2 linked regions of the Homo sapiens genome follow. The protein of the gene in region 1 interacts with the protein of each later gene in a biochemical or structural test. Each region holds a gene or a part of one and is shown in the gene's direction. Other genes may lie near its edges.

The links.
Region 2: the proteins of RCC2 (region 1) and CORO1C form a complex in vitro, tested with the Homo sapiens proteins (one study listed by BioGRID).

The regions. Positions count from the first base shown.
Region 1 is NC_000001.11:17,436,516-17,452,809, reverse strand, and holds the start of RCC2 (protein RCC2), read left to right. Parts: upstream 1-13,132; 5' UTR 13,133-13,265; intron 13,266-14,273; exon of another isoform or gene 14,274-14,287; 5' UTR 14,288-14,295; coding exon 14,296-14,580; intron 14,581-16,294. UniProt on the Homo sapiens protein: Multifunctional protein that may affect its functions by regulating the activity of small GTPases, such as RAC1 and RALA. Required for normal progress through the cell cycle, both during interphase and during mitosis.
Region 2 is NC_000012.12:108,721,508-108,737,121, reverse strand, and holds the start of CORO1C (coronin-1C), read left to right. Parts: upstream 1-5,603; 5' UTR 5,604-5,693; intron 5,694-6,278; exon of another isoform or gene 6,279-6,499; intron 6,500-15,614. UniProt on the Homo sapiens protein: Plays a role in directed cell migration by regulating the activation and subcellular location of RAC1. Increases the presence of activated RAC1 at the leading edge of migrating cells.

The DNA.
Region 1 (16,294 bases):
GTGCTTTGTAAACTTGAAAGCATCTTACTGATGTGAGCCGGGACCTTCCTCATGTATTATTTTTAGCTGCTTTTTCTGGTCTAAAACAAGATTTTTTTTTCTGAGACGGAGTCTCGCTCTGTCGCCCAGGCTTTAGTGCAGTGGTGCGATCTTGGTTCACTGCAACCTCCGCCTCCCAGGTTCAAGCAATTCTCTGCCTCAGCCTCTGGAGTAGCTGGGATTACAGGCATCCGCAACCATGCCCAGTTAATTTTTGTATTTTTAGTAGAGACGGGGTTTCATCATCTTGGCCTAGGTGGTCTTGAACTCCTGACCTCGTGATCCACCCACCTCAGCTTCCCAAAGTGCTTGATTACAGGCGTGAGCTACTGAGCCCGGCCGATTTTTTTTTTTTTTTTTTTGAGACAGAGTCTCTGTCGCCCAGGCTGGGGTGCAATGGCGCCATCTCAGCTCACTGCAGTCTCTGCCTCCTAGGTTGAAGCGATTCTCCAGCTTCAGCCTCCCGAGTAGCTGGGACTACAGGCACAAGCCACCATGCCCAGCTAGTTTTGGTATTTTTTAGTAGAGACAGGGTTTCACCATGTTGACCAGGATGGTCTCAAATTCCTGACCTGAAGTGATTGTCCTGCTTCGGCTTCCCAAAGTGCTGGGATTACAGGCATGAGCCCCCACAACCAGCTAGAGCTGGGAATTGAACCCAAACAGTTCCAGAGCTATCTCTTGCTCTAGTCCACACTTTTCAGCTGCCCCAGAAGGGCCCTGCTTGAGACTGTGGGGTCACCTGTGCCCATCCCTGCTCTGTGAGTCATCTTGAAACCCCCTCTGTATCAGACAGGTTGCCCAGACATCCCGAACACCCTGTTTTGGACAGACAGCATCAGGTGGTGATGGTATGGGACGAAAATGCTTCTGTGTCAGCCAAATTCCCTCCTTCCCTCTGAAGCAAGGAAGGGGAACCAGCTCAAGTCTCGAGAAATTTAATGAGGTTTGGTAAGGAATGCACTCTTTTGAAAAATGCGTGCATAATAACAGTGATTTAAACCGCCGAGAAGATGAAAAATAATGAGTGGTTTCGTTGTCAGAGTGGCAGGGACTAAGCCACAGCCTCGAGGGCGTGGACACATGGTTCCCCTCCATTCGATTCAGACTTGGAGACAGCTCAGCTTCCCTGGGTCTTAGTTTTCTCATTCCTCAAAGGAAGGATTGGATTCCAGCTAAAAATGATACTTTGCAGGGCAACTAGTGGACACAGAAATGACTGTCTTGGCCCCATGCAGTGGCTCACACCTGTAATCCCAGCACTTTGGAAGGCCGAGGCCGGTGGATCACGAGGTCAGGAGTTCAAGACCAGTCTGGCCAAGATAGTGAAACCCCATCTCTACTAAAAATACAAAAATTAGCCAGGTGTGGTGGTGGGCACCTGTAGTCCCACCTACTCGGGAGGCTGAGGCAAAGAACTGCTTGAATCTGGAAGGTGGAGGTTGCAGTGGACCGAGATCACGCCACTGCACTCCAGCTTGGGCGACAGAGCGAGACTCCATCTCAAAAAAAAGACTCTTTCCTACATATAGGCCAAGATCAGGCTCCCACCAGCGAGGTACATCCTCCTTTGGTGCTGACTTCCTGCTTCCTGAGCCCCATAATCCTGCCACTGTCTGATGACGAGGTCGCACACTTGGCAACACTTTTTCTACTTTTTTTAAATTTTTTTGAGACAGGGTCTCATTCTGCCGCTCAGGCTGGAGTGCAGTGGCGCGAGCATAACTCATTCCACCTTCTGGGCTCCAGTGAGCCCCCTGCCTCAATCTCTTTAGTAGCTGGGGCTGCAGATGCACACCATTATGCCCAGCTAATTTTTTTTTTTTTTTTTTTTTTTTTTTTTTTTTTTTTTTTGAGACTGAGTCTTGCTCTGTAGCCCAGGCTGGAGTGCAATGGTGTGATCTCGGCTCACTGCAACCTCCGCCTCCCAGGTTCAAGCAATTCTCCTGCCTCAGCCTCCTGAGTAGCTGGGATTACAGGCACCTGCCACCATGCCCAGCTAATTTTTGTATTTTTAGTAGAGACGGGGTTTCACCATGTTGGCCAGGCTGGTCTCAAACTCCTGACCTCAGGTGATCCGCCCACCTCGGCCTCCCAAAGTGCTGGGATTACAGGCGTGAGCTACCGCGCCCAGCCTGCCCAGCTAATTTTTAAATTTTATGTAGAGACAGGATCTCCCTACGCTGCCCAGGCTGGTCTCAAACTCCCAGACTCAAGCAATCCTCCCACCTTGGTCTCCCAAAGTATTGGGATTACAGGCGTGAGCCCCAGTGCTCCGCCTGGTAACACTTTCAAAGGCAAAAGGCTTTCTGTGGATTGGGACCCAACCTGTGTAATTCAATGCATGCCTTCAAGCAGGCTTGCTTTCTTGTACACTACCCAACTTTCCTTCATCATGGATTTTTCTAGACAGTCAGACGCCATGGTCCATCGTAGACTGGAGAACATCAGAGTTGGGAGGAGCCAGAAGCATCAAATCCTATTCCTCAAGCCAAGGTGGTTTGTGGAACCATCTTCCTCATTTTTGCTAGAGCTATGCAACACCTGAGTAAATGTCTTTCTTTAAATAAAAACATTTTCTTTTTTTTTTTTTTTTTGTTGAGACAGAGTCTCACTCTGTCATCCAGGCTGGATTGCAGCGGTGACAACTCAGCTCACTGTAACTTCCACCTCCTGGATTCAAGTGATTCTCCTGCCTCAGCCTCCTGAGTAGCTGGGATTACAGGCATGTACCACCATGCCCAGCTAATTTTTGTTTATTTAGTAGAGACGGAGTTTCATCATGTTGGCCAGGCTGGTCTCAAACTCCTGACCTTAAGTGATCCACCCACCTTGGCCTCCCAAAGTGCTGGGATTACAGGTGTGAGCCACTGTTATCTGGCCCTCTTTTATTTTTTTCTAAGTTCACATCAAATGGGTAATGTGCTGATGACTTAACAAGGTTTGAGGGAGGCACATTCAACACATGAACATGAAAACTCAATCACTTTTATGAACCACATAAGTGTTCATGATCCAAACACTTATTTTATTTATTTATTTATTTATTTATTTATTTATTTATTTATTTATTTATTATTTTTGAGATGGAGTCTCACTCTGTCGCCCAGGCTGGAATGCAGTGGTGCGTTCTCAGCTCACTGCAACCTCCACCTCCCAGGTTCAAGCGACTCTCCTGCCTCAGCCTCCCCAGTAGCTGAGATTACAGGCATGCACCACCACACCCAGCTAATTTTTGTATTTTTAGTAGAGACGGGGTTTCACCATGTTGGCCAGGCTGGTCTCGAATTCCTGACCTAAGGTTATCCACCCACCTCGGCCTCCCAAAGTGCTGGGATTACAGGTATGAGCCACCTCGCCTGGCCGAGATTGTCTTTTAAGATGATGCCTCTGCGTGACACTCAAAGCCCACAGAACCATGTGTTATTCACTCCAGAGGCCCTTCTGTTTCCAGCCTCAGAACCAAGACCTCTGTAGAGATAGCAAGATAAGGAGCAAGCAGGAGTCCTAACAGGAGGGGGTGTTTAAGGAGAGGCCAGTGGGGACAGTGGAATAAGTGTAGGAATGGCTTGGGTGGAACCCTGAAGTTAGCGGCAATAAATCTCAGCCTCTGAAAATAGATGAGGTGGGCCAGGCATGGTGGCTTACGCCTGTAATCCAAGCACTTTGGGAGGCCAAGGTGGGCGGATCACCTGAGGTTGGGAGTTCAAGACCAGCCTGACCAACATGGAGAGACCCCCATCTCTACTAAAAATACAAAATTAGCCTAGCGTGGTGGCGCATGCCTGTGGTCCCTGCTGCTCGGGAGGCTGAGGCAGGAGAATCGCTTGAACCCGAGAGGCGGAGGTTGTGGTGAGCTGAGATCACGCCATTGCACTCCAGCCTCAGCGACAGAGTGAGACTCCCATCTCACACACACACACACACACAAATTAACAACAACAAAAAGAAAATAGACAAGGTGGCTCATGCTTGTAATTCCAGTACTTTGGGAGGCCGAGGTGGGAGGATCACTTAAGTTCAGGAGTTCAAGATCAGCCTGGGCAACACAGCAAGCCCTCATCTCTTACTAAAAATGAAAAAATTAGCCGGGCACGGTAGCACACGCATATAGTCCCACCTACTCCGGAGGTTGAGGCTGGAGAATTGCTTGAGCCCAGGAGACTGAGGCTGCAGTCCAGCCTGACAGACAGAGTGAGACACCATCTCTAAAAAAAAAAAAAGAAAAGAAAAGAAAAAGAAAGAATGGGTTTTCAGATTCTGACTTCACCACTTCCACCTGTGAGACCGTGAACAAGTTTCTTAACTTATGTCTTGGCTTCCAGATCTATAAAATGGACTGTTAGGGGATGAATACGTCCCCCCGAGTCCATATGCTGAAGTGCAAACCACCAGTATCTCAGAATGTGGCTGTACTGTATTTGGAAATAGGGTCTCAAAAGAGGTAATAAAGTTAAAAAGAGGTCATTACACTGGCCCTAATGCAATGTGACCGGTATCCTTGTAAGAAAAGATGAGGACACAGACACACTCAGAGGGAAGATCACGTGAAGACAAGAGAGAAGGTGGCATTTACAAGCTATGGAGAGAGGCCACAGAAGAAACCAACCCTGCTGACCCCTTGGTCTTAGACTTACAGCCTCCAGAGCTGTGAGAAAATAAGGTTCTGATTTTAAGCCACCCTGTCTGTGGTACTTTGTTATGGCAGCCCTAGCAAACTAATACGGGGACCCACAAAAGTATCCGTGTTGCATGGATGTTATGAAGATGAAACCAGCTTTTTACGGGGAGTGCCTGGCCCAATGTCTGGCGCAAGGTAAGAGCTCAGTGCACACCAGAGAGAGCATCTTGGTTCTATTTAAGAACTCCTCTGCTTCATCTAGCTGACTCAGGCCACTTAGTGAATGTGAAAATCAGACAGTCCAGATATTTGGCACTGCAGGGACTCCCCACGGGATCGATTTCTTCATTTTTCAAAAGGTTATTATGCTTTTGCATGACATGACGTGGCCTGAAATGCAATGATTCCCAGCCACCAGGGCCACCTGATACATTAAACAGGCGGCACTCCTTCTGGCCTTGTCATTAACCTTCCCGGCAAATGACACAGTTCTGCAGCTGGGCCCAAAGCCTTGGTTTTTCTCGTCCATTCCAACTCTCATGGTTCTTGACCTCACCCAAAAGTCGCCCACCCGCTAGGCTTCATTTCGCAATCGATGCTGGATGAACAGCTGTAGGACCTGCACTTTGTTTGTGCCTCTGTCTCTTTTTCTTTTTGAGACAGAGTCTCACTCTGTCACCCAGGCTGGAGTGCAGTGGCATGATCTTGGCTCACTGCAACCTCCACCTCCCAGGTTCAAGCGATACTCTTGCCTCAGCCTCCGGAGTAGCTGGGATTACAGGTGCCTGCCACCACGCCTGGTTAATTTCTATAGTTTTAGTAGAGACGGGGTTTCCCCATGTTGGTCAGGCTGGTCTCTAACTCCTGACCTCAGGTGATCTGCCTGCCTCAGCCTACCAAAGTGCTGGGATTATAGGCGTGAGCCATCGTGCCTGGCCAGCCTCTCTTTTTCTAATCTCATGACTATACATCCATATTGCCCACTGGCAGGGGAAGATGGAATCTCTGCAGAAGTTAGCTTTTATTTGCAAGCTTAGGTGAGGGATAGTCTTAGAAAATGACTGGAGAGCCTTTATTTATTTATTTTTTTGAGACTCAGTCTCGCTCTGTCACCCAGGCTGGAATGCAGTGGTACTCTTGGCTCACTGCAATCTCTGCCTCCCGAGTTCAAGCGATTCCCCTGCCTCAGCCTCCTGAGTAGCTGGGACTACAGGCACGTGCCACCACGCCCAGCTAATTTTTTGTATTTTAGTAGAGATGGGGTTTCACCATGTTGGCCAGGATGGTCTCAGTCTCCCGACCTCATGATCCACCCATCTTGACCTCCTGAAGTGCTGGGATTACAGGCGTGAGCCACCGCGCCCGGCCGACTGGAGAGCTATTGATTACAGACCAGCTTTACAAATTGTGGCTCTATCTCAAGCCAGGAACACAACATGAATGCAAACACTCCTGCAGATTGGGAGCGCCGGTGGTTACAAACTAACAGGCAGACATTGATGAAAGTGATTTCGATCCTGTTTTTCCTGAAAAATTAGATTTAACTCCCAAGGTGTGCTCATTTTCATTTCAAATTTCTCCTGTACTAAAGGAGGAAGAGCAGGCCCAGCTGATGGCAAAACTGTGAAGTGGTTGCTTACTCCTTCAGATGCAGGCAACAGGGGCTGCAAAAGCGTGAGCTCCTCCAACCCTCAGGAAGAGAAGTGGGTGCACCAGCTGCCAGGCCCGGGGCAGTGTAGAGGGTCAGTAAATATCTGTTGAATTTCCTTAAGTCTTCATTAGGCCAGTGTATTAGTCCGATTTCACACTGCTATAAAAATACTACCCAAGACTGGGTAATTTATAAACAAGGGAGGTTTAATTGACTCACAGTTCAGCATGGCTGGGGAGGCTTCAGGAAACTTACAATCATGGCAGAAGGGCAAGCAGGCACCTTCTTCAAAAGGCAGCAGGAGGCCGGGCGTGGTGGCTCACTTGAGGTCAGGAATTTGAGACCAGCCTGGCCAACATGGTGAAACCCCATCTCTACTAAAAACACAAAAATTAGCCAGGTGTGCTGGTGTGTGCCTGTAATCCTAGCTACTTGGGAGGCTGAGACAGGAGAATTGCTTGAACCAGGAGGCAGAGGCTGCAGTGAGCCAAGATCACTGCACTCCAGCCTGGGCAACAGAGTGAGACTCCATCTCAAAAAAATAAAATAAAATAAAAATAAATAAATAAATAGCTGGGCGCAGTGGCTCACGCCTGTAATCCCAGCACTTTGGGAGGCTGAGGTGGGCTGATCACGAGGTCAGGAGATCGAGACCATCCTGGCTAACACGGTGAAACCCCGTCTCTACTAAAAATACAAAAAATCAGCCACGCGAAGTGGTGGGCGCCTGTAGTCCCAGGTACTCGGGAGGCTGAGGCAGGAGAATGGCGTGAACCCAGGGGACGTAGCCTGCAGTGAGCCAAGATCGCGCCACTGCACTCCAGCCTGGGCAACAGAGCAAGGCTCCGTCTCAAAAAATAAAAAAATAAATAATAAATAAATTAATAAATAAATAAAAACATGACATTTGGGTGGGGACACAAAGCCTAACCACATCAGCCAGCTTGGTGAGTCTTGGTATTCTGCATCCTGGACCTCCTCACCCTGGACTAGATGCATCTTTTTTTTTTTTTTTTTTTTTGAGACGGAGTCTTGCTCTGTCGCCCAGGCTGGAGTGCAGCGGCGCGATCTCTGCTCACTGCAAGCTCCACCTCCCGGGTTCATGCCATTCTCCTGCCTCAGCCTCCCGAGTAGCTGGGACTACAGGCACCCGCCACCATGCCTGGCTAATTTTTTGTATTTTTAGTAGAGACGGGGTTTCACCGTGTTAGCCAGGATGGTCTCGATCTCTTGACCTCGTGATCCACCCTCCTCGGCCTCCCAAAATGTTGGGATTACAGGCGTGAGCCACTGCGCCCAGCTAGATGCATCTTAAAGTATGAGAAACCACCTTTTGAATGGCTTCCACAGGGTATGGAAAAGTGGTATGATTTCAGTAGCACTTCTCATACTTTTTTTTTTTTTGAGATGGAGTTTCGCTCTTGTTGCCCAGGCTGGAGTGCAATGGCGCAATCTCCGCTCACCACGCCCGGCTAATTTTTAGTAGAGACGGGGTTTCTCCATGTTGGTCAGGCTGGTCTCGAACTCCTGACCTCAGGTGATCTGCCCGCCTCAGCCTCCCAAAGTGCTGGGATTATAGGTGTGAGCTACCATGCCTGGCTGCACCTCTCATACTTTAAGATGCATAAAAATCACCTGTTAAAAATGCACATTCTGGGCCGGGTGTGATGGCTCACGCCTGTAATTCCAGCACTTTGGGAGGTCGAGGTGGGTGGATCACCTGAGGTCAGGAGTTCGAGACCAGCCTGGCCAACATGGCAAAACCCCGTCTCTACTAAAAATACAAAAAATTAGCTGGGTGTGGTGGCAGGTGCCTGTAATCCCAGCTATTTGTGAGGATGAGGCAGGAGAATCGCTTGAACTGGGAGGTGGAGGTTGCAGTGAGCCCAAATTGCGCTACTGCACTCCAGCCTGGGCAACAAGAGGGAAACTCCAACTCAAAAAAAAAAAAAAAAAAAAAAAACACATTCTGATTCAGTAGGTCTGGGGGCTGAACCTGAGATTCAGTGTTTATTTTTATTTTTTTGAGACAGGGTCTCACTCTGTCACCTAAGCTGGAGTGCAATGGCATGATCATGGCTCACAGCAGCCTGGACTTCCCAGGCTCTGGCGATTTTCCCACCTCAGCCTCCAAAGTAGCTGGGACTACAGGTTTGCGTCACCACACCTGACTAATTTTTTTCTTTTCTTTTCTTTTATTTGAGAGAAGTCTCACTCTTATCCCCCAGGTTTGAGTGCAATGGCTCGATCTTGGCTCACTGCAACCTCCGCCTCCCGGGTTCAAACGATTCTCCTGCCTCTGCCTCCCAAGTAACTGGGATTAAGTTGCCTGCCACCACGCCCGGCTAATTTTTGTATATTTTAGCAGAGACGGGAGTTTCACCATGTTGGCCAGGCTGGTTTCGAACTCCTGACCTCAAGTGATCTGCCCGCCTCGGCCTCCCAAAGTGCTGGGATTACAGGCGTGAGCCACTGCGCCTGGCCGCGGCTGGCTAATTTTTTTCTAATTTTTGTAGAGATGGGGTCTCACCATGTTGTCCAGGCTGGTCTCCAACTCCTGGGCTCAAGCAATCGTCCTGCCTCAGCCTCCCAAAGTGCTGGGATTACAGGCGTGTACCACCACGCCTGGCCAGATTCTGTGTTTCTGACAATCCTCCTACTGATGCAGATGCCTGTACACTTCCTGGCTATCCTATCTGCCAGCTGTGTGGCCTCAGGAGGCCTCAGCATCTCCCTGGGCTTCAGTTCTTCCGCTGGATATTATTTAGATGAACAAACATATATTGACAGCTTACTACACGCCGGGCTGCTCTGGGTGCTTGCTAGAAAAACAAAGATGAAGAAGCCACAAGCCAAGCCCAGGCATGCCTCACAGACAGAGAACTTAAAGGTCCAACTACAATATTTAAAGACTCTGCGTTTGAAAATTTCATGACTCATTGGCAGAAATAGGACGACCGGATCTGCATCTCCCAGAAAACATCTCTCCAAACACTATGACAGGGATTCCCCGCTGACTACTGTCCTCAGAATCAGGGAATACGAAATCCAGAAGTAACCTCAAGAGAAATTTAGCCCAAACTCTATCTTGCCATTTTACAGAGAGGAGAAACTAGAGAACAGATGCAGAAAGAGTGGGGTCTGGAGGAAATTACTGGTTTTCCAGCTATGCTTTCGAAGGCTGTGATGTCCAACAGGAATAACATATGAGCTACAAAAAACTTAATATGTAATATTAAATTTTGTGGTAGTCACATTGAAAAGAGTAAAAAGAAGCCAGGCACAGTGACACATGCCTATAATCCTAGCACTGTGGGAGGCCAAGGCAAAAGGATTGCTTGAGGTCAGGAGTTTGAGACCAGCCTGGGGAACATAGTGAGACCTTGTCTCCACAAAAAAATTTTAAAAATTAGCTGGGCGTGGAGGTGCACGTCTACAGTCTCAGCTACTAGGGTGGCTGAGGCAGGAGAACTGTTTGACCCCAGGAGGTCGAGGCTGTAGTGAGCCAAGATGGCGCCACTACAGTCCAGCCTAGGTGACAGAGTGAGACCCAGTTTCCAAAAAAAAAAAAAGAGAAAGAATCGTTTCCATTGGTTAGCGCATCACTCCCAGGATCACTGGTTTCATTTTTATAGACACTGGATCAGAAAATTAATCTTTCAAGTACAGGTGTAGCTTTCTGTAGCCAAGTTGAATAGAATTACACTTCTGAGGCTGGGCACAGTGGCTCACGCCTGTAATCCTAGCACTTTGGGAGGCGAAGGCGGGCAAATCACGAGGTCAGAAGTTCAAGACCAGCCTGGCCAACATGGTGAAACCCCGTCTCTACTAAAAATACAAAATTAGCTAGGCGTGGTGGTATGCGCCTGTAATCCCAGCTACTTGGGAGGCTGAGGCAGGAGACTGCTTGAACCTGGGAGGTGGAGGTTGCCACCACTGCACTCCAGCCCGGGTGACAGTGCGAGACCCCACCTCAAAAGAAAAAAAAAAATGAATTATACTTCTGAGGCTGTGCACAGTGGCTCACCCCTATAATCCCGCAACTTTGGGAGGCTGAGGTGGGAGGACCACTCGAGACCAGCCTGGGCAACAGAGAGAGACCTTGTCTCTACAAAACATTAAAAAAGAAAAAAAATTTAGCCAAGTGTAGCTGTCCATGCCTGTGGTCTCAGCTACTTGGGAGGCTGAAGCGAGAGGATCGCTTGAGCAAGGAAGGTAGAGGCTGCAGTAAGCTGGGATCATACCATCACCCTTCAGCCTGGGTGCTGGAGGAGCAAGATTCTATCTAAAAAAATAAAAAAAAAAAAAAAAAAAAGAAAGAAAAAATCACACCTCACCCCTGGAAAAGAACTTAAGCGTAGCTGAATCTAACTTGCAATATGATTTTGCTGAAGATGAGGTTAAAGAGTGACGGCAGGCTGGCACTTGCAGCCACATTTCCAAAATTCTGGGTGTAAAATGCTCAGCACAGTGCCAGACACCTGTGCCTCAAAGTGTCAGAGAAATCTCAGCCACCTTCTTTCCCTTCCCCTCTCCCGGTTTTGCACCAAACCATCCTGTCCCTGGAGAATTTGCTCAATTAGAAGCGAGGTGAAATTCCAAGCACAGTTTGAAGGAGGAAGTGTCATTTTCAGCTTGCCTGTAGGTGCACCTCACTATGTAACATTTGTTACATAAGTGGCAGCATGACACGCCTAACTGATGAATGTCTGTTGCACACCCAATTCCAGCCGGGAGAGTCACGCAGGCTTTCCCTGGGAGAATAGTGGTGTGGAATTGAGGCATGGAGTTGCAAAAATTACTTTTGTCTTCTGACAAGTAGGGCCAGTTCCAGGGTGTTATACCCAAAGTGCTTTTCTACTGCAGCATAACCTCAAGAAAAACCAGTTTCAGGAGCACCACACCTAGGATCAGATGATGCAATATGATATTAGCGTCTCATTGCATCAGTGTGTCTGAGGCATGAGTCTTTTAAGCTGGCAAAAAGCATTATAAAGGGGCAGGAGAAAAAAGGAAAAGACTTGCAGACTGAAATCTAAAGGTACTGTCAGTGGTGTTCCTAATTGGCCACACAGGGTGTTTAGAGGATAAACACCCAGCCACCCGCCTCGGCTGACAAGCATCAGCATGCCATTTCCTGAAGGGGACTTGATGGCATATTTAGGCGAAATTCTTTTCTGGTTGGTTCTACTTATGCTTTATATCAAAGCGTCAAAGTTTAACCTCTAAAAAATCTTTTTAAATGCAGGTCTATTAAGAATAGGCTTTCAAAGGGTGCTTCTATTCCATCTTGACTTTTCTGAAAATCTCTGAAACGTACCAGTTGATTTCTCATTTCCAAAGTTCTTTTACATAAGCACTCTCAGCTCTCTTGACACACAGACTTTTGACTTTGATCAAATACCTTAGATTTGGGCCTCTTGGTTTCTCTGTCTTCCTTTACAGGACACTTGATGCTTCCCAGTCCTGTTTCTTGCACTAACAATGAATGAATGAATCACAAAAATCCTAGAACTTTATGCGTTTTCAAGAAGTTGCCTGAAGAAGGAACTTCCTTGTGCGGTACGCCTCAGGAAAAAAGAAGCAGGAGAAAAGCTTTGAGAGGAGAGCAAGTGACGGTGAGATCGTAATGGAAGTGGGGTGGAGAGGTGGAGGGTGGAGACCGGTAGGAAGCAAGCAAGGCTTTTTTCACCCGTCCCAGGACACGCGAACGAGATCAAGCCTCACTGCGGTTCACTAGGGTCTATGCAGGCCCTCGCACCCCTGCCTACCTCCTCAGAACCCAGCCTCTTGGCTCTTCTCACCCCAGCCCCACCAGACAGCTTCCCTCCCAGGAGGTGTCTCTCAAGATCTCGAAATGTGGAGCGTCCCGTTCACTCCACCTGGCCTGGAATACTTTTCCTGCCCCCTTTCATCGGGTCTTATTCATCCTTTAAGTTGTTCAGCATAACTTTCCACCTGAATGCCTTCCCTGGCCCTGGACTAGGATAAATCCCCTCGCCATAATGTTCCTACACAGGCATCACTTTGTAAAGCTTACCACTGTTGTAATTACTTGTTTACTGATCTGTCTTTCCGTTAGGCTGTGCGTTCCACTGGGGTGGAAACCTTGTTCACTGGCTCTGCAGCCCCGGGCACTGTGGGTCTTGCATGTACCGGGGGCTCAGTAAATATTTGGCAAAAAATGAAAAAGTTCCCCTCAAAGCCAGCTTCCAGTGCCTCCACGGCCCTCAAATTAATTATGAATTAATTCACTAATACAGCAAACCTTTATGTGATTCTTCCGTGTCACAGCACCTTGTTACATACTGAGGACACATCCACAGGCAAATAAAACTCAGCTTCTCTCTGCACAGGAAAAAATTATTCAAATTGTATTCATCTTTCATTCCAATCACTCAATTAGGGCACGTCCCTTGTTGGCTGCTGCGTGAGCGAAGTAACTATTTTCCAGCGAGTGTCCTCATGTGACCTGTCTAGACGTGCCCAGGAAAAACAATCCAACATCCTCCTAAGCCGCAAAGAAGTCCCTGACGCGCAGGCCGCACTGCGTGGAAGGCCCAAAGCGCGCTCGCGGGCCCGCGAAAGGCGCAGGAGCAGCGGAGCCGAGGCGGGCGGCGAGGCGCGCGGCGCGCGGCGCAGGCTCGGGTGGGCAGGGCAGGGCCAGGCCGGGCGGGGCGGGGGCGCCGGCAACGGGTCCGCCGGCCGGCAGGGGGCGCGCGCGCCCCGCGCCCCGCGCCTCCCGCCCCGCCGCGCGCTCGCTTGCCGCGCGGCCGCACATGTGTTTCTGTTTTGTGTTGTAGCATTTGTTCTGGAAGCTCGTATTTACATTTTAAGTGTATCTGGTGAGTGGGCTGGAGCCCTCGTCTGGGCCGGAAAAAAAAAAGCCCTCCGATCCGTCTTTTAGTTGCTTCTCTTCCTTTTTTCTCTCCGGTTTCTCATCACTCCAACCAGGTAGGGTCTGAAAATCGACAGTGATCAGTTTGTGGGGTCTGGGAAAGTTTTTTTTTTTTTCCTTTTTTTAAAGAGAAAAGGTTAAAAAAAAACCTGGGGGAGGGGGGCTGGGTGATTGAAGGAATAAAAAGAGGAAGGAAGGCGGATCCACGTGGTTTAATCGGAGACAGACAGAGATCCCATTGTTCAAAATCAATTAAAAAAAAAAAAAAAAGCAGACAGGGGAGAGCGCAGGGACGCCGGGGAGCTGGCGGCGGCCCTGGACACTTTGCAGTCGAATCGGAGACCGGCCGGGCCGCACGGCCGGCAAGGGGGCTGGGAGAGAGTTGGGCACCATTAAAGTTTTTATTTTTCGTGTCTGTGCGAGCAGGTGTTTGGGGCTGGGGTCCAGCTTTCTTCGGGCTCTTCCCCCGTCGCCGGGGGCAGTCCGCCGTAGGGATTCGGCTAACTAGAGCCCGAGGTCGGCACCCCTGAGCTGGGGCCGAACGGGGGTCCAGGGCTGATGCGGGGTGGGGGAGAGCGTTGCATTAAATGCCATGAGTGGGTTTGGGGGGAGACTGCGGAGACAAAAGCAGCAGGTGGGGTAGCCGGGGAGCAGGGGCTCCCTTACCACCCAGGTGCCAAGGGGGAATCCTGGAAGTGTCCCGAAGCCTTCTTTAATGAAAATCTAGGGGACTGGAGGCTGGTTTTACTTTCCCTTTACTTTTGGGGGGCGAGGTTGCAACTGTGATGCTTTGTGGGCAAACCTAACTTACGGATAGGCCGGGGGTCTCAATTCTCCCTCCAGGGGATTGCCTCTGGGGCTCCCGGCTGCCCTGCGGGATTCCCCGAAGGAGCCGCGCCGGGGCCAGGGAGGGGCGCGATTTCCTCTCCCAACTCGCCCCCTCTCCGCCCACCCTGCGGCCGCCACTTTGGGGAGGGCAGAGGAGGAAGTGGAGGCCGGGTGGCTCGTCTCCGCTCCCCTCCCCCCGCGCAGTTTATAACCCGTCCATTGTGCGCCGCTGCCCCGTGTCTCCCTCCAGCCGCGACCATGCCCAGGAAGAAGGCGGCGGCGGCGGCCTGGGAGGAGCCGAGCTCGGGCAACGGCACTGCCCGCGCCGGGCCCAGGAAACGCGGCGGCCCGGCGGGCAGGAAGCGCGAGCGGCCCGAGCGCTGCAGTAGCAGCAGCGGCGGCGGCAGCAGCGGCGACGAGGACGGCCTGGAGCTCGACGGGGCCCCCGGCGGGGGCAAGCGCGCGGCGCGGCCGGCGACAGCAGGCAAGGCGGGCGGCGCGGCCGTGGTCATCACCGAACCCGAGCACACCAAGGAGCGCGTCGTGAGTGAGGGTCAGGGTAGACGGGTGGGCGCAGGGCCGGGGCCGGCGGGCTCAGCGACGCGGCACGGCGCGCGTTCCAGCCGGGGGCCGCCTCGCGTCACGCTCCCTCCCGGCGGCCGGGCCGGCGCAGGCCGCGGGCTGAATCATTGCCTCCGCCTCCGCGCAACAAAAGGGCTCGGTACGGGGCGCGCGGCCCGCGGCCTACCCGACCCCGGGCACCGCGCGGGCGGTTGGCGGTTGGGGCGCGCGCCCGGGCCCGCGGCGGGGGAGGGGCGGCCGAAGCCCGCACGAGGGGGTCATGGCCCCGCCCCCACAGCTCCCTCTGCGCCCCTCCCCCCCCGCCCCGGGAAAGGGGACCTCGGTAAGTTCGCCCGGCCTGGAAGAGGGGGCGGCCAGCGGGCCCCACACGTCCGTGGCCGCCGCTGCGCCCGGGCGCCGCGGGGAGGGGGCGGCCGGCGCTCTGCGGGGAGCGGCCGTTTGCGCCGGGGCTTTGAGGTTCCCGCCGCCTCGGCTCCGGCGCCCGGGGGGGGCGGGGCCTGACGGCCGCCGCGCATGCTCCGCAGAGCCCTCCCCCGAGGTCGGGGAAGCCCCCCGGCTGAGCGGTGCTCGGGCTTTGTTTGCCGCCGGTGGTCCGAAGCTGCAGGATGCTCGCGAGGGCTCTGTTGTAGCCCCCCCAAGTGAAGAAGCATCTCCTAGGGTCCTGGGCGGGCTTCTGTTTTCTCAAATCTTAATTAAGGTCGTGGCTGACTCAAGTTAACGTTCCCGAAAAAGCCTGCAGAGCCGGAGATCTGAACCCGGCATCTGCCGCCACAGCATCTCCCCACCCCCACAGAACTTTCTTTAAGTTTGGTGTGGTGTGGGATATGTTTTTCAGAAGAGGGTCTAAGTTTTCACCAGATTCTCAGATAACCCCCAGAGAGCAAGAACTTCCACCTGGGGTGTAGAGCCTGACACCCGGAGAGGTTTTTTTCCTTCCATAAGTGCCCATCTCCTAAGGGTGTTTAAGGGTTAACAGCAGAGTGCTTTCCTCCAGAGAAGCGCAGGCAGTGTCTAATAACACATTTTCTACGTCCGTTTTATAGATAGGGAAACTGGGGCACAGAATTCGAGGGCCTTGTCCAAAGTCATGGATGGAACTGGATCTCCAAATGCTGTAACTCCTGATGTCCCTGCAAATTGCACATGGGAATATGCTTTGTAAAAGTGCCTTCTGGGTGAAAGGGTTAACATGTTAGGCAGTGGAGGAGAGCCCGTCAAAAGCTGTCAAAAGGTCTTGCCCGGGGTCTTGGATCAGGCTAGACTAGACAATGGCCAAAGTATTGAGAAACTGGAACACAGGAACTGTTTTCCTTTGACGTCTAGTCTGCTGTGCCAGACTCCAGACATTTGCCCTCCGAACACAGTATGTTAGGATGAAACTAAAAAGAAAGGCCAGGTGAGCTTCCGCGTCTCCTGTATCCTATTTTGAGTGAGTTTCCAAAAGCAAGATTGTGTTTAGACATCCAAGACTGCAGTTATCAGCTGTACAGCTCCAGACTGTTGGAACGCTGAATTTTGCCATCAGAGCAAAAGATCCTTACCCCATGCTGAGATTGACCCAAGGAGGTAGAGACAGGGAGTGTGTGAGGGACACTGGCTCTCCCTGGCCCACCTCTGTCTCCAGCTGTGCTGCTTGAAGCTGCTTTGTCAATGGAAATGGCACATTTGTTAGTCT
Region 2 (15,614 bases), on another chromosome or scaffold:
ATTCTGGGAAACAGTTTGACAGTTTCTTAAAATACTGAACATACGACTACCATATAACACAGCAATTGGACTCCTGGGAACTTTTCACAGAGAAATGAAGACGTACGTTCACACAAAAAGCTGTACATGAATGTTTATAACGTTTATACCAGCTTTATTCATAATAGCTCCAACCTGTGTCCTTCAATGGGTGAATAGGTCAAACAATATGTCTTTCAATGGGTGAATATTTAAACCGTGGTGCATGTGTACCATGGAACACTACTCAGCAATAATAAGGAACAAACTACTCACACATGCAACAACCTGGATGCATCTCCAGAGATTTATGCAGGGTGAAAACAGTCAATTCTAAAAGGTTACATACTATATGATTCCATTTACATGACATTCTTGAAATGACAAAATTTTAGAAATGTAGAACAGATGAGTGGTTGCCAGGGCTTAAGGAGGGGATGGATGAACGGAAGGTGGAAGTGGGTGTGGCTATCAAAGGGAACATGAAGTATCCTTGTGGTGATGGAAATATTTTCAACATCTATATTGACATTGACTGTATCCATGTCAATATCCAGGTTATAATGTACTACAGTTTTGCAAGATGTTACCACTGGAGGAAACTGCATAAAGGGTACATGTGATCTCTCTTTTTTTTGTTGTTATTTTTCGCTAAATTTTTTGTAGAGATGGGGTTTCACTAAGTTGCCCAGAGTGGTCTCAAACTTCTGAGCTCAAGTGAGCCACTTGCCTTGGCCTCCAAAGTGCTAGGATTACAGGCATGAGCCACTGTACCTGGCCCACACATGATCTCTCTCTCTCTCTCTCTCTCTCCCTCCCTCTCTCTTTTTAATGAGACAGAGTCTCGCTCTGTCACTCAGGCTGGAATGCAGTGGCGTGATCTTGGCTCACTGCAACCTCCACCTCCTGGGTTCAGACAATTCTTGTGCCTCAGCCTCCCAAGTAGCTGGCATTACAGGCGCATGCCACCACTCCTGGCCTCTTTGTATTATTTCTTACACTTGTATGTGAATCTGTAATTATCTCAAAATTACAATTTTAATTTTAAAAAAGGCATTTGTCTGTAGCCTGTCAATCATTCAGTATTTTTCCAGTCTCTATTTTGCAGAAAGAAGTACCCAAAGTGGTGAGAATGAAGATTTATCAATGTAGAGTGAATTTTAGTGCTCTTCAAATTTTGTTGTCTTCTATCGCTCAATTAGGGGTCTTGTCTACTGAGATTACTCTAGGGACTTCCAGTCTCATTTATTTAATAATATTATTATTTGTTAATGCTTCCACAGGGTAATTCACTGAGCTTCTAGGTTGCCCTAGCAACCTAAAACAAATGTCCCCATTTGGTACTCAGAAAAAATAGAAAAATGATTTGCTAAGGAGCCTCTGGATGCTGGGCCCACAGTTCTTTCCACTTCATACATAAGCTGGCATCTATATCATGTGTGGTCTGGAATCATTTTTATTTTTCCTGATCATTAAATTCCTCTCCATCTAGCACCTGTCTTAAGCCACTTTAGAAATCACCAGCTTTTGAGAGCAGGAAAAAACTCTTAAATCCAGCATCTCACCTGGACTTGGATCCCTCCCTTTAGGGCCAGCTTGGACAGAGCCAAGGTTTCTTTCAGGCCCACAAAGCAATTGCTGTAGGTTCAAGAACAATGAGATGATGGGGCTTTCTCCCAGCAGAGTTATGCAGTTTTCCTGTTTCTGGAAGTAAGCAGCTCTCAGCTGACCACATTTGGGATAGGCATGGAGTGAAAGTGAGGTGGCATTGCTTCTGGCATTGGGTGCTTCCTGTGCAAGAATCACCTCCTCAAATGCAGGGCTCAAACCAGGAACTGAAAGAGGCAGTCAGAAGATGAAGGCCTTGGGATCTTTCGTAGCATATTCCATGGCTGCTTTTTGGCGGTATCATCTGGCGGGGGGAATTCTTCTAATTTCATCATTATCATTTCATCACTTCTAACTTCATCATTTATCTATGATCTCATGGAACCCCAAGATTTTTTTATTTTTATTTATTTCTATTTTTTTTTTCAGAGTCTCACTCTCGCCCAGGCTGGAGTGCAGTGGCGCTATCTAGGCTTACTGCAACCTCCACCTCCAAACTCGAGTTCAAGCAATTCTTCTGCCTCAGCCTCCCAAGTAGCTGGGATTACAGACGCGTGCCACCATGCCTGGCTAATTTTTGTATTTTTAGTAGAGACGGGGTTTCATCATATTGCCCAGGCTGGTCTCGAACTCCTGACCTCAAACAATCCGCCTGCCTCAGCCTCCCAAGTGCTGGGATTACAGGTGTGAGCCACCACTCCTGGCCGGAACCCTGTGATTTTTAAACATCAACATGTTTTAAAACAACTATTTTGTGCTGGGCACTGTGTTGGGTGCTTTGCCACGTCCTAATTCATTGAATCTAAACTCCTGAATATTCAAAACCACTTCCTGAAGCATTTACATGATTCCCAGTGATATATAGGCAGAAGAATAGGGCTCAGCTCAGAGGGGAAGTGACTTGCTGAACGTCACACAATGAGTAATAGGTGGAGCCTGAATTTAAACCTAAACCGGCCAGAATCCAAAGTCCACGGTTTTTCTGTTCTGTCATGCTGCCACAGAGGCAGTTTAGTGTAATGACTAACTGGCTAAGGGTGCAGGCTCTGCATTTAGATGGATGTGGGTTCTACGTGGTTCAAGCCATGTGACTTGGACAAGGAATTTAACTTCTCTGAGTCTTCAGTTTCCTCACCTTTATAGGTGGGGATTAGGAGTCCCTTCTGGGCTGGGTGTGGTGGCTCATGCTTGTAATTTCAACACCTTTGGGAGGCCAGGAATTTGAGACTAGCCTGGGCAACAAAACAAGACCCCATCTGTACAAAAAGTAAAAATATTAGTGAGCAAAGTGGTGTGCACCTGCAGTTTTAGCTGCTTGGAAGGCTGAGGTGGAAGGATTGCTTGAGCCTGGTAGTTCGAGGCTGCAGTGAGCCAGATGGAGCCACTGCTCTCCAGCCTGGGCAAAAGAGTGAGACCCCGTCTCAAAAAGAAAAAAAAAAAAGAATTATTTCTGTGGCCATAGGATTGTTGAGCAATTTCAGAAGATTCTGCATGTAAAGCACTCAGATAGTGCCTAGCATGTCTAAGTGATGGATAAATGTTAGCAATAATCTGTTTCCAAAGAATAAGCTAGCTTACTCCGTGGTTTCCAGTTGGAACTCGGCCGGACGCGGTGGCTCACGCCTGTAATCCCAGCACTTTGGGAGGCCGAGGCGGGTGGATTACAAGGTCAGGAGATCGAGACCATCCTGGCTAACATGGTGAAACCCCGTCTCTACTAAAAATACAAAAAATAAGCCGGGCGTGGTGGCGGGTGCCTGTAGTCCCAGCTACTCGGGAGGCTGAGGCAGGAGAATGGCGTGAACCTGGGAGGCGGAGCTTGCAGTGAGCTGAGATCGCGCCACTGTACTCCAGCCTGGGCGACAGAGCAAGACTCCGTCTCAAAAAAAAAGGAACTCAAAGCACTTTACCAATCTTCATTTTCCCCAAAGCACTCAGAACTCACTGCTATCAATGCCCCTGTTTAATTTATTAACTAGTGGATTTTAAAAAAACAACTTTTATTGTTCAAAACTATTGAATTGTGGGCACAGTGGCTCATACCTGTAATCCCAACACTTTGGGAGGCCGAGGTGGGAGGATCTCTTGAGCTCAGGAGTTTGAGGCCAGCCTGGGCAACATAGCAGGACTTCATCTCTACAGAAAAATGTTAAGAATTTAGCTGGGCATGGTGGCGCGTGCCTGTAGTCTCAGCTACGTGGGAGGCTGAGGTGGGAGGATTACTTGAGCCCGGGAGGTCCATGCTGCAGTGAGCCGTGGACTGCCCCACTGCACTCCAGCCTGAGCGACAGAGCAAGACTGTGTCTCAAACAAACAAAAACAAGTGAATTGTTTTTGAGCCTCACCATATGGCAGGCACTGCAGTAGGCGTTTCATCACGTTTATCTCATTTAAATAAAGTGAGTGGCAAATCTTACTGCAGGAAGGGTGCTGAATTCCTCCTATTAGGAGTGGCTGCTTGAAGGCAAAATAAAACCCATCCTTTCATTTTGTTGAGTCCCAGCAGTAGCAGCAACAGGTACTGTCGAGCGTTTATCACAAGCCAGGAACTCTTCTAAGTATATTACTATTATCCTGGTGCAAAAGTAATCGCGGTTTTTGCCATTCCTTTTAATGGCAAAAAGTAATGCCACGATCATGGCTGCTAATATGATCTCATGGAACCCTGTGAGGGAGGGGCTGTTATCCCCATTTTACAGATAAAGAAACTGACCCTTAGAGAGGATAAATAATTTGCTGTGATAGCTGTCTTAGTTCAGGTCAAGCTTGATTTAAATAACACACGTTTCTGAGGCTGACGCTTAAAATAAAAAATCCCCCTGTGAATGGCAAAGATGCCTTGCTTTGGGAAGTAAATAGCCCTACCCCACAGTCGGTTCGGTTCCCCAGGCTCTGTTTCCTCAAATCTCGGTATTTCAGAGCTTGGTGTTTCAGAAAGGGACTTTAGCTATTAACAGGACAACTTCTTCATGCTGAAGATTAGGGGACTCAGGCCCAAAGAGGTAAGAGAACTGTCCCAGGTCACACAGTCTGACGGCCGCAGAGCTGAGGCTCAAATTCCCGTGCTCCGACTTTCAGGCCTGGGCCGCCGAGTTATTAAGGGACTCTGGCCAGGGAAAGGAAGGGAGGAACCCTGAAGTTTCCATTCCCTCACCTGCGAAATGGGGTCAATCACGGGCCCTCTTTGGGGTTACGTGGGTGTGGCCCAGCCCAGGGGCGGCCACTCTGCACTAGGAATGTGACAATGGACGGTTCAGGGAGGGCTGGAACGTCGGCAGTCCTCAAGGGAGGTGGTGGTAGGGTGTGACGGAGCCAGGGCGGAGCCTCGGGAGCCAGAGGCGTGGATTCGCGAATTCGGGGCGGGGCTTGGGGTTTAAACGTTGAGATGGGGTAGTGGGCGGGGCTTGAGATGCTAGGAATAGGGTTGCGGTCCTTGGGCGGGGCTTCTGGAAGACGGGGCGGGGCTTTGTGAGGCCGCTGGGCGAGTTCTGAAGCAGTGGGAGGGGAGCCGGGCTTAGGGAAGCAGGAGGCTGGTTTAAGGACTCGGATAGGCAGTGCGCGGGGCTCAGAGGAGCTAATGTTCCTGTATTGAGGGGCTCTGGGGGAATCTTTGAGGAGCCAGGGGACGTGGCCTTGCAGAGCCTAGCGGGTCAGTGGGCGGGGCTCTAAGAACCCCGCTCCGGGGTCTAAGGAGCAGTGGGCGTTGCTCGGAGGCGCCTGTGGGCGTGGCCCTCTACCACTCAGATGACTGGAGAGCGGGGCGTGCGCTTGGGCACCGCCTGCATCCCTCGGTGCGACCAGAGGGGGCGTAGCGAGGCGTGGAACGTGGGGTGGGAAGCGGGCTTCCCCTCCGGAAGTGGGCGTGGCGCACAGCGGCCCGGCAGCCCTGGTTGGGTCCCGCGCGGCGCGGGGGCGGGGCCTACGCGCGGTGGCGGGGGCGGTGGCGGCTGCCCGCGCCCCTCCCCCGCACGGCGCTCAGTGCCAGGCTGGAGGCGGCAGCGGTTGGAGGCTTCGCCCGGCTTTGCAGCGGGGACTTCGGCGGCGGCGCCTCAGGCACCTCGGCCCGGGTGAGCGGCTCGCGCCCGGCGGGGGCAGCCTGAGAGCGAGTCGGGCGGGCGGACCTGTCCTCTGAGCATGTGCCTGCGCCGCCTGACAGGAGCCGGCGGGGCGAGGGGCAGGGCTAGGTGGAGGGGACAGTGCTGGGTGGGCGCGCGGGGCGCGGGTTCACGGGCTGGGTTGCAAGGGGTTAGGGCCGGGGGCTGCTGTCGGGGGCTCGGGGAAAGGGAGTTGGGGACCGAACCAGGTGGCGTGGGGAGCGTGAAGCAGGGTCCCTGTGGGGAGGAGGCTTTCGAGGTCCGGAACGCTCCTGGCCGGGTGCGGAGCCGCGGGCCGAGGTGGGACGAGGCTGCCCAGGGAAGGCTTTTAGGGGTCAGGGATCGCCTGCTTGGGCGAGGTGCTGGGAGGGAAGGGCTGCTTCGGGCGAGGCGTAGAGCCCGGGGGCTCCAGGCCTGGGGACTGGGTTTGGGCCGCCCCAGGGAACGAGTGGGTGGGGGCGGGTAGGGGCCGGGCTCACGTGGGGCCGGGGCGAGCTGGGCCCTGCGTCGGGAGGGGCGAGGGCGGCCGCCTGGCCTGCGGGTTTCCTGGCTTTGGGTGCGAGACCAGCTCTGGGCCCTGCAGATCTCGGTTGGGGGTCAGGCGGGGCGGGGCAGAGCTGGAGCTGGAGTAATGTGGGTGGGGGCGGCTTGGGAAGAGGCTGAGCCCGGCCAAGGGAGCAGAGGGCTGGGACTGGCTGGGGGTTGGGAGGGGAGGAACGAAGCAGGAAGGCTGTCGGATCGGGGGCCCAGGGTGTCCGAGTGAACTGGGTGATTCAGAGGTGTGTTTCCCTAATAGCGGGGCAGCTGGCGAGGGACGCAGTAAAAAGGAGCGAGGTGCAGGTGGGGCCCCGCTGCGCCGAAATGACTGAGGATGAGGTCAGACGTGGAGGGTGGGAATGCAGAAACCGAGCTCTCCCGCCTGTCCCCACCGGCGCACGCTCCCCAGCTCTCCGTCTCTCAAATGATTTGAATGTGTTGGGGGAAGTGGCAGGCTGCGGTGAGAGCTGAGAAGAAAGGGGCTTCCTCTTGGAGGGAGGCGCTGGCCCTGGCATCCTTTTTTGGGAGTGTTCAAAGGATTTTGAACGCTGGAAAAGGAATCGTAGGCTTTACTGCATCACGATTTAGAAACACATCCTATATTTGGCCGTAATGTAGGCTGCCCTTGTTTTGTGGTGTCTAAAGTGCTTGCTCTACATGTTGCAAACGTGGGATTCAGAGTGCGAAGCAAATTGCAAGTTGTTCATTTCCCCCGGCATGGTAAGATACAAAGGCTTTTCCCTCCTATAAGACATTTGAAAAGAATTGAATGTAGTGCGCGTTTAATAAACTGGTCCTGGGTGGCGAATATATTTACTTTTGGAAATAGTTACCACAAAATATTAGGCCCTCTTACCGCAGCCTTTCTGCCTGGGATTACATTCTAAAACAGTACTTGTAGGGCTCTTAGTCACTCTATATAATAATGCATCTCATTGTCCTTATCTGGCAGAACGTTCTCCTGACACCAGGGCCTGCTGGAATAGACAGAAACATGATTAAGTATAAGCAGTTGCTTTGTACCGTCTGTTCAGTTGTGAAGGCAAATAGATACCTGTTTAATATTAATTCACTTTCTGCATTCCCTGTAAAACTGAAGAAATGTGCAAAATCTATTTTGGACTTGGTTCTATACATTTCAGATGATTTAAGGAAACTAGTATTTTTGGTTTGGAGGTATGTTTCACAGTCATAATGTTTGGCTATGAAGCATAATAGTAAACATTGGATCTGAGAAATCGCATAAATAAGTAGGGAAAAAAGTGAAATAAAACTGAGAATTGTGTTGTACCTTAGGTCTTGAAGTGCAGTGTTTCGTGGTGGAGGTTAGTCGTGTGTACTGAGGATTGGACAAAGATTTGGTATAAACGTCAGGAGCACACATTTTTGACAAATATAGAACCTATCTTGTCCATATTTATTTTGATTACTTGTGGAAGGTACATTAAAGCCTGATGAATTTTAATAGATACATACCGATGAAACATAACTGCACACAATATTGACTTTTTCATGATCCTTTGTTACTTTGCCTGCAGATTGTGCTAATCAGCATTTATACTTATTTATATATAGTTTAGGATTAGATTCGGTGTCAGTGAATAGCATTTTTTTAAACACCGTTGGATTTTTTGATAAAAGTTTTATGTTTAACTTATCTGTCACTTCTGGGATCCACTCCAACCATGAGGAAGAGAGTCACTCTAACGACTATGAGATGGAATGTTCAAAAGGATGAATATCAATTCTTAGTTATATAAGTGGGTATGTCGACGAGTCTCTTCTTTATGATGGCAAAATTTTAATTTCTCATATTTTGATTTGTCACAAACTGGTACTTTAGAAACATATTATTAATTGGTCTGTTTTACCTTTGACCTCTTTTCCAGGGGTGGGGCAATAATAAATTTGAGAGCTACTTGCATTTTCAAGGTACAAATCCATGTGATAAAACCTCTTAAGCTTGTTTTCCATTTATGACTTCTCTGTGTTACTGTCTCCTTGAATTATGAAAACTCTTTTCTGACACTTGTATGTCTTTTTAAACTTAAGATACCTTTTCTGTATTAAAACAGAATTCTTCATGAATATTTCAGTATGACCTAGTACCTAGAATGTTAAGTAATAGAATCTCTCTGGGTTTTCTTTGCCCTAGTTCAGATCCTTTAAAGTGAGTGAACAAGATTCTGTACTCCTTTCTGAGTACTTTGTATTTCTAGAGTGCAGAATGGAACTTTTTTTGTTTTATAACAGCTTCATTGAGACATACTGTACAGTTCACCCGTTTAAAGTGTACAGTTCTGTGGTTTTTGGTATATTCACAGAGTTGTGCAGCTGTCACCACAGTCAATTTTAGAACATTTTCATCCCCCCCAAAAAGAAACCCCATACCCCTTAGAAGTCCTCCCGTTTCATGTAAATGGAATCATACACTATGTGGTCTTTTGTGTCTTGCCCTTATTTAGCATATTTTCAAGGTTTATATGTGTGGTAGTATTGTATAGTACTTCATTTTTTTTTTTTAATGGTCAAATAATATTCCATTGTTTGGATATGCCGTATTTTGTTTATCCATTCATCAGTTGATGAACATTTGGGTGTTTTTCCTTTTTGGCTATTATGAATAATGCTGTGAACATACGTTTTCATTTCTCCTGAGTATTTACCTAGGAATGTAATCGATGGGTTGTATGGTAACTCTATATTTAACTATTGGAGGAATGGCCAGACTTCTCCAAAGCAGCTGCACCATTTTACGGTATTCACCAAGAGTATATGAAGGTTCTAAATTCTCCACATTCTTGCCAACACTTGTTACTCTCTGACTTTTTGATTCTAGTCATCTGTGTTTCCCTAATGGCTAATGATGTTGAGCATCTTTTCATGTGGTTGGTGAACATTTGTATGTGTAATCTTTGGAGAAATGTCCATTCAAATGCTCTGCCCGTTTTTTAATGGGTTGTCTTTTTATTGGTGTTATAAAAGTTGTTCATGTATTCTAGATTCAAGTGCCTTATCAGCTGTATGATTTGCAAAAATTTTCTTGGATTCTGACATGTCCTTTCATTTTCTTGATGGTGCCCCTTTTTAGGAACAAAGATTTTAAATTTTGATGATTTCCAATTTATGAATAGTGGGGTCTTACTAGTTAGAAATTAGACCTTAAACCACACCCTCCTCAATATTTTGGTTATATAAGTTGAAACCCAAATGTGAGAGGACTGGGGAAAGGTTTGAATTAATATATTTTAAGGTATGCTATAGATGAAAAAGGATTCATCAGGGAACATGCCATTCACCTGTTCAAATCCTCTGGTGACCTCACCTTTACCCACAAAATAAAGTTCAGACTCCTTAATGAGGTGTGGAGTAAGGTGGGCTCTGATTTCAGCCTGCTTTATTTCTCACTATTCCCCTTCCAATGTCTTCATCTCTAGTGCCACTCCCTGAAACATCCCAGCTTTCAAATCTTGTGATGAATTTATTACTTCATCGCCTTTCTACTTCTAGAATCCCACTTGTCCTTTGGGACATGGGTCATGAGGTTTTTCCTCCATGAAAACTTCCTCATCTCACAGGCAGACATTTGTCCCTGCCCTCATGTATTGTACATTCATCAGGACTGTTTGCTACAAAGAACTGGACCTGAATTTGAGCTAATAGTCTGAAAGGTGCCTTTCCATACAAGGCAGAATGCAATAGAGCAATTCACATGGAAGGCAGACTGAGATTCTCTTGTTCATGGCTTGGTCATTAGTGCCTACTGGATATTCGCTGAATGAATGATTGTTTATTGAAGTTAACTGGAAAGATCCTGAGGTCAGTGGGTTTCTCTGATTATCATGAATGTCTTTATTGCCTATGTTAAAATAACATGAATGGGGTAACTCCCTTTTGCCCTTCTGGCATCCAAGTCCAGCTCTTACCAAAAAGTGCTCAAATGTAAAACTGAGTGTTTAAAACATTTCCCCAATGGCAGAACATTCTCGTCCAGGTTCTTTCCCCCGATGAACAGTAATGACTGGCGCACAGTCTCCTCAGTAGGGTAGATGGCCAGCGAACACGATTTAGTCACACCAAATGCATACAGGCCGACCCTGATAGTATTTGGTCAGTTAGTACTGGAACTACCCCTGTCACACTCATGAGAATGGTTGTAAATTGGATTTTAAGGGTGTGTACTTTCTTTTCATTCTTTTTTTTTTTTTTTAATGTTTTGTAGAGATGGGGTCTCACTATGTTGTATAGGCTGGTCTTGAACTCCTGGGCTCAAGCAAGTCTCCTACCTTAGCCTCCGAAAGTGCTAGGATTATAGGCGTGATGCACCATGCCCAGCCTCTTCATTCTTTTGTTCATGCTCTCCTCTCTTGGGGTGTCTGACTCAAATTAGTATTCTTTAGTTATATTTTGTGTTCTTATGTTCATTTTTTTTTTTTTTGAGACAGAGTCTCACTCTGTCGCCCAGGCTAGAGTGCTGGAGTGCAGTGGCACGATCTCAGCTCACTGCAAGCTCTGCCTCCCAGGTTCACGCCGTTCTCCCGCCTCAGCCTCCCAAGTAGCTGGGACTACAGGCGCCCGCCACTACACCCGGCTAATTTTTTGGTATTTTTTAGTAGAGATGGGATTTCACTGTGTTAGCCAGGATGATCTCGATCTCCTGACCTCATAATCCGCCCGCCTCGGCCTCCCAGATTATGTTTATTTTTAAAATACTTTAATTAAAAATATTTCATGCCGGGCGTGGTGGCTCACACCTGTAATCCCAGCACTTTGGGAAGCTGAGGCGGGCAGATCACGAGGTCAGGGGTTTGAGACCAGCCTGGCCAACACGGCCAACCTGTCTCTGCTAAAAATACAAAAATTAGCCGGGTGTGGTGGCACGCGCCTGTAGTCCCAGCTACTCAGGAGGCTGAAGCAGGGGAATTGCTTGAAACCTGGGAGGCAGAGGCTGCAGGGAGCCTAGACTGCGCCATCACACTCCAGCCTGGGCGACAGAGTTGCACTCCAGCCTGGGCGGCAGAGAAAGAATCCGTCTCAAAAAAATAAATAAATAAATAAATAAATTCACTTAGCACCTTTCTGAGAATTAGGAGAAACCAGTTGGCCATTTCGGGATACCTTTTCTTTGTGTGTTCGTTAAAGCTTGGATTGTGGCAAGGTAGTACAGAAGAGAAAGAAAAATGTCAACTTTTTTGTCTAGTTAGGGACAGTGAGCTATGGGTACCTTCTGTAGTTCTCGTTCTAAGAGAGTTTTGTATTTAGGGGAACTGAGGCCGTGAGGGTGCAGGCCTTTAGGGCCAGATAGAGCTGGGCTTCACTCTTGGCTCCGCTTCTTGCTAGCTGTGACTTTGCCAGCTCCCTCACCTCCCTGAGCTTCACTTTCCTCCTCTGTAGTGTGGAGATGCAAAAGGCTTACCTTGCAGGGTCATTGGCAAGATTAAGCAAGGAAAATTATATGAAGTGCCTAATACAGAGTAGGTACTGAATACATTCCTGTTCCCTCTCTTCTCTCTTAAATGTCTGTTAATGAATGGAACTGCAGAGAAGCAAATAGAGTAAGTTTAATACATTTTACATCTGACATTAAGCTATTAAGGGTATGGATTCCTACTCCCACCTGAGGATTTTAGACTTTGAATCAAAGTTGAGTCACTGAAGAGGGCAAAAAATGTCTAATTTTAGGATGGGAAGGCGGTCTTAAAAACACCTCCAGTGTTTTTGCATCTGTCTGAATTGGAAATGTCTATTCAGACAGTCTTCTCTATTCAGGTCTGTGTATTCAGTCTCTCTGTCTGTGTGTCTGTCTGTCCATTTTAAGGAAAGTTCCTGGCAAAAGATGGATTTTTTTAGGATTTGAAGGAGATTGCACTGCAGTGCTTGAGATAACTCTTCTGGTTACAGTGTGATAAAGTGTAACATCCTGTGTGGGAAAAGAGCCTCTATAGTTTTATGGTATGTTAAATTAGGCCTGTCATTTGGATCTTACATTAATAACAAAAATACAGTTCCTCCCGTTTGCTGCAGTAATGAGTAATTAATATAATGCAAAGGTCAGAGTGAGAGAGACTATAAATGGGAGTAGGAAGGCCTATACATTGTATGTGGAAGGCAGTTATATTTTTTCCCCTTTGGTCAGGCAATGATCTACATTTCTTCTTAAAAATTTATGAATAATGGATTATATTTGGCACCAGTATCTCACCATCTTTTAAAGGATATATTATTTTGGGAGATTTGGGAGATTATTGCTCAGGTACAGAGGTCCTCATTCTTGACTGCCTTGTGATGATCATCTGTGGACCTATATGAATCCAGCTGCCTGGGTGTGAGTTCCCTGGTGACTCTGAATCACAGCCAGAACAGGAAGCACTGTGGGCTGGTCTATTCCTCATTTTACAGATGAGGAGACTTTGGTGGCAGGAGCTTGACAGATTTACCCAAGATCAGGAACTTAACTGCCCCTTCCTTTGTGTGGTATGAATTAATTTTTATAGTTAGTTGTGTGAATTTATAGTATAGTGTGGATTTTTTATTTAACAATGTGAACCTGACATGGCTTTCCCTTTGTAGTCTTTGACCCAGTGCAGCAGTTCCATTTGCTTAGCCTTTCGTCATGCTCTTTTGCCAGATCTGCAAACCAAGCCTATTCACGGAGTTTTCTTCAGTTAATCACCACAGTTGGTAGCATGTACCTATGTTGTTGTTGTTGTTGCTTTTTCCCACATATTCAGGTTGTGCATGTATTAAACTGTGAAGTTTGGTCCAGGTTTTTAGGAGGATTTTTAGATGCATTTTTAGGAAACTTGAAAATACATGATATCTCTTGGATAAACCTTTGGTAAACTTGATTTCTATTTTTAATGTAAAGCTCCTTGACAGTATTTTATTGATCCTTTTAAATTTCCTCAGTCTTATAATCTGAGCACTAGTAAGCAGTGGTTTTAAAGATTTGTCTTGTATTTGGAAGACCGATTATTATTGCAAAGGTGCCCTTGCATTGCATCTTGCCAGAAAAATTGGCATTAGTAGGCCGTCTGTATTTGAAAACACCAAGTTTAGACAGGAACAACACAGGCCCAGTACTGAACTATTAATATATAGATTGTAACAGACATAATGAAAACCACTTAGGATTAGCAAAGGTTGATTATTGTTTCACAATGTGGTTGTTCTGTCTTTGGGAAACCAAGACAGACTGCAAGTCTGGTCACATGGTGGTTTGGTGTAAGAGACTTTCTTGCTCCATTGTGGAACTGGGTGTGGGTCCCCATGTCTCAACAACTGCTGAGGCCTTCATTCTGGATGAACAAAGCTGTAGATTTTTCATGAGAGACCATAGTAGACACACATGGGAAAGGAAGTGTTAGGAGAGTGAAGCCGTCAGGCTGTATTTTCTACTTTTGATATCATAGGGGTGCATGACAAAATTCACAAGCATCCCTTCCTTATGACAAATGTTTAATCACCATTATTTGCTTACTTCACAGGAAAGATACTTAAATTCCTTTTCGTAATGGTCAAGCATTCTTTCCTAGTTAAAGATTCTAATTCCTTTCATTCTTAGGAACTTAAAGAATTGACTGATTTATTAACATAAAAACTCAAATGTGGCTGGAGTGGGGACTGAGGAACACACGTGAAAGTGCGCTGTCATCTCTGTTAAGCAGAGGGATTTATTAGGAAACTAGTCACTTTGGAAGCTAGATGGTGAATTAATTTTGTGGTTAGTAGTATCTTTAGCTTAACAATGTCATCCTAGTTTTTCTTGGCAAGCAAGAGAGAGGCTGGAGCCAATGAGGGCTGGCCACAGTTCTTTGGGGGTGATATTTAATAAGATGCACGTTGTCTGTTTTAGAAATAGAGTAACTGTCCTTTAGGCTCTCTCTTCTGTGGGCCACTGTTGCTTTACAGTGCTACTGTAGGAAAAGATAAGTTGGAAGTCTTCTTTTTTCTCCCTAAGACTGCTAGTTTGATCTTTTTATGCATTATGACAGTGTCTTGAGTGCAGTGGACTGAATTACTTTTATCAAGTAGAACAAATAACATATCATACCTTCAAAGGATGGTTATGAACTGTGTGTTTCTCTGAAAGTGAATGAGCAAGAGCCCAGATGAAATTTCTGTTTTGGAGGCAGGCAGTGTGTACATTTGGTCCCCAACTCAAGACTGGGTTGTGTTCCAGAGTCTAACTCAGTTATTTGGAACTCAGATCTACTAGTAGTAATTTCTATCTATTGTGTTGATTCAGCATTGTAAGTGGTGGGTACGTTCCCAGCCTAGACTGAAGGAATCTGTTTAATTCACAGCAGTTTTTGAAATTGTTTATGGTGATAGTGGAATTCTGGATCTTGGGAGCTGGTAGTCATGTGAAAGAGAAGTAAGGACTCATGCCCCATGCCCCAGGAGCCTCCCTGTGCAGGCTGTGTGGCGTCCAGGGGTCTCATGCCACTGCAGCCCTCCAGGTCTGTGCTGGCCCTCCTTGTTCTTCATCCTCCTTCATCTCTCTCTTAATTTGAAGCTTCTACTTCCCTGGTTAAGCTCACTTTCTTTAAATCATGGTAGCAAAGCACATGGTTCAAATTCATTTCCCTGCTAGACTACCGCTGTTATTCAGGGTTGGGATGACTACAGGCTTTATTCATGTCATTTCACTCATGTTCTTTAACCCTTTTAGAGGTGTACAATGTTAATATTTTTAAAGAGGAGGTTCCTTACTGATAAACAGATTGTCTCTTTGAAATGTTTGCATTCAGTCATTACAGCAAGGTTTCAAGGGGAAAGTTGAGCAGAGGCATGTGAAGTCAGGCAGACCCCACGTAAGGAGGCTAGTCCTGATACCTGGAATCAGGAAGAAACCATGCCTGCTTTAGAAAGGTTCTTCCTGTCACTCCAAAACAGTGACTCTGCTAAATTTTTTTCAAAATACTTTCTGATCTTTTTTTTTTCTTTTCCATTTGGGAACTTCACAGCTTGAAAGGGTCTTAGGTTTTGGCGAAGTGGCTTGGTTTCTGTGACCTTTGGAAAGTTGATCAGGGCATGGTAGTGATTGTAAATTGGGGCATCTTATAATGGCCAGAGCTGGGCACTCGTCCTGTCTATTTTTCTATTCTTTTATAAACTTATCAAAAAGTCACTTTTTTCATCAAACAGTGGGAAATTATTGACCTCTCCATTCTGTTAGTGCCTCTGTGAAGGGTTTGAACTACTGGTTTCAAAGAACTCTTTTCATTCAAACATTTTATGATGCAAAATATATTAGGGACTTGATTTTTCTGGTATCATTTAAAAAATTCGTATTCACAAAGTCTTATGGCAAGCTTAATGTTTTGATTTACTTTTAAATTATGTAAAAGTTTA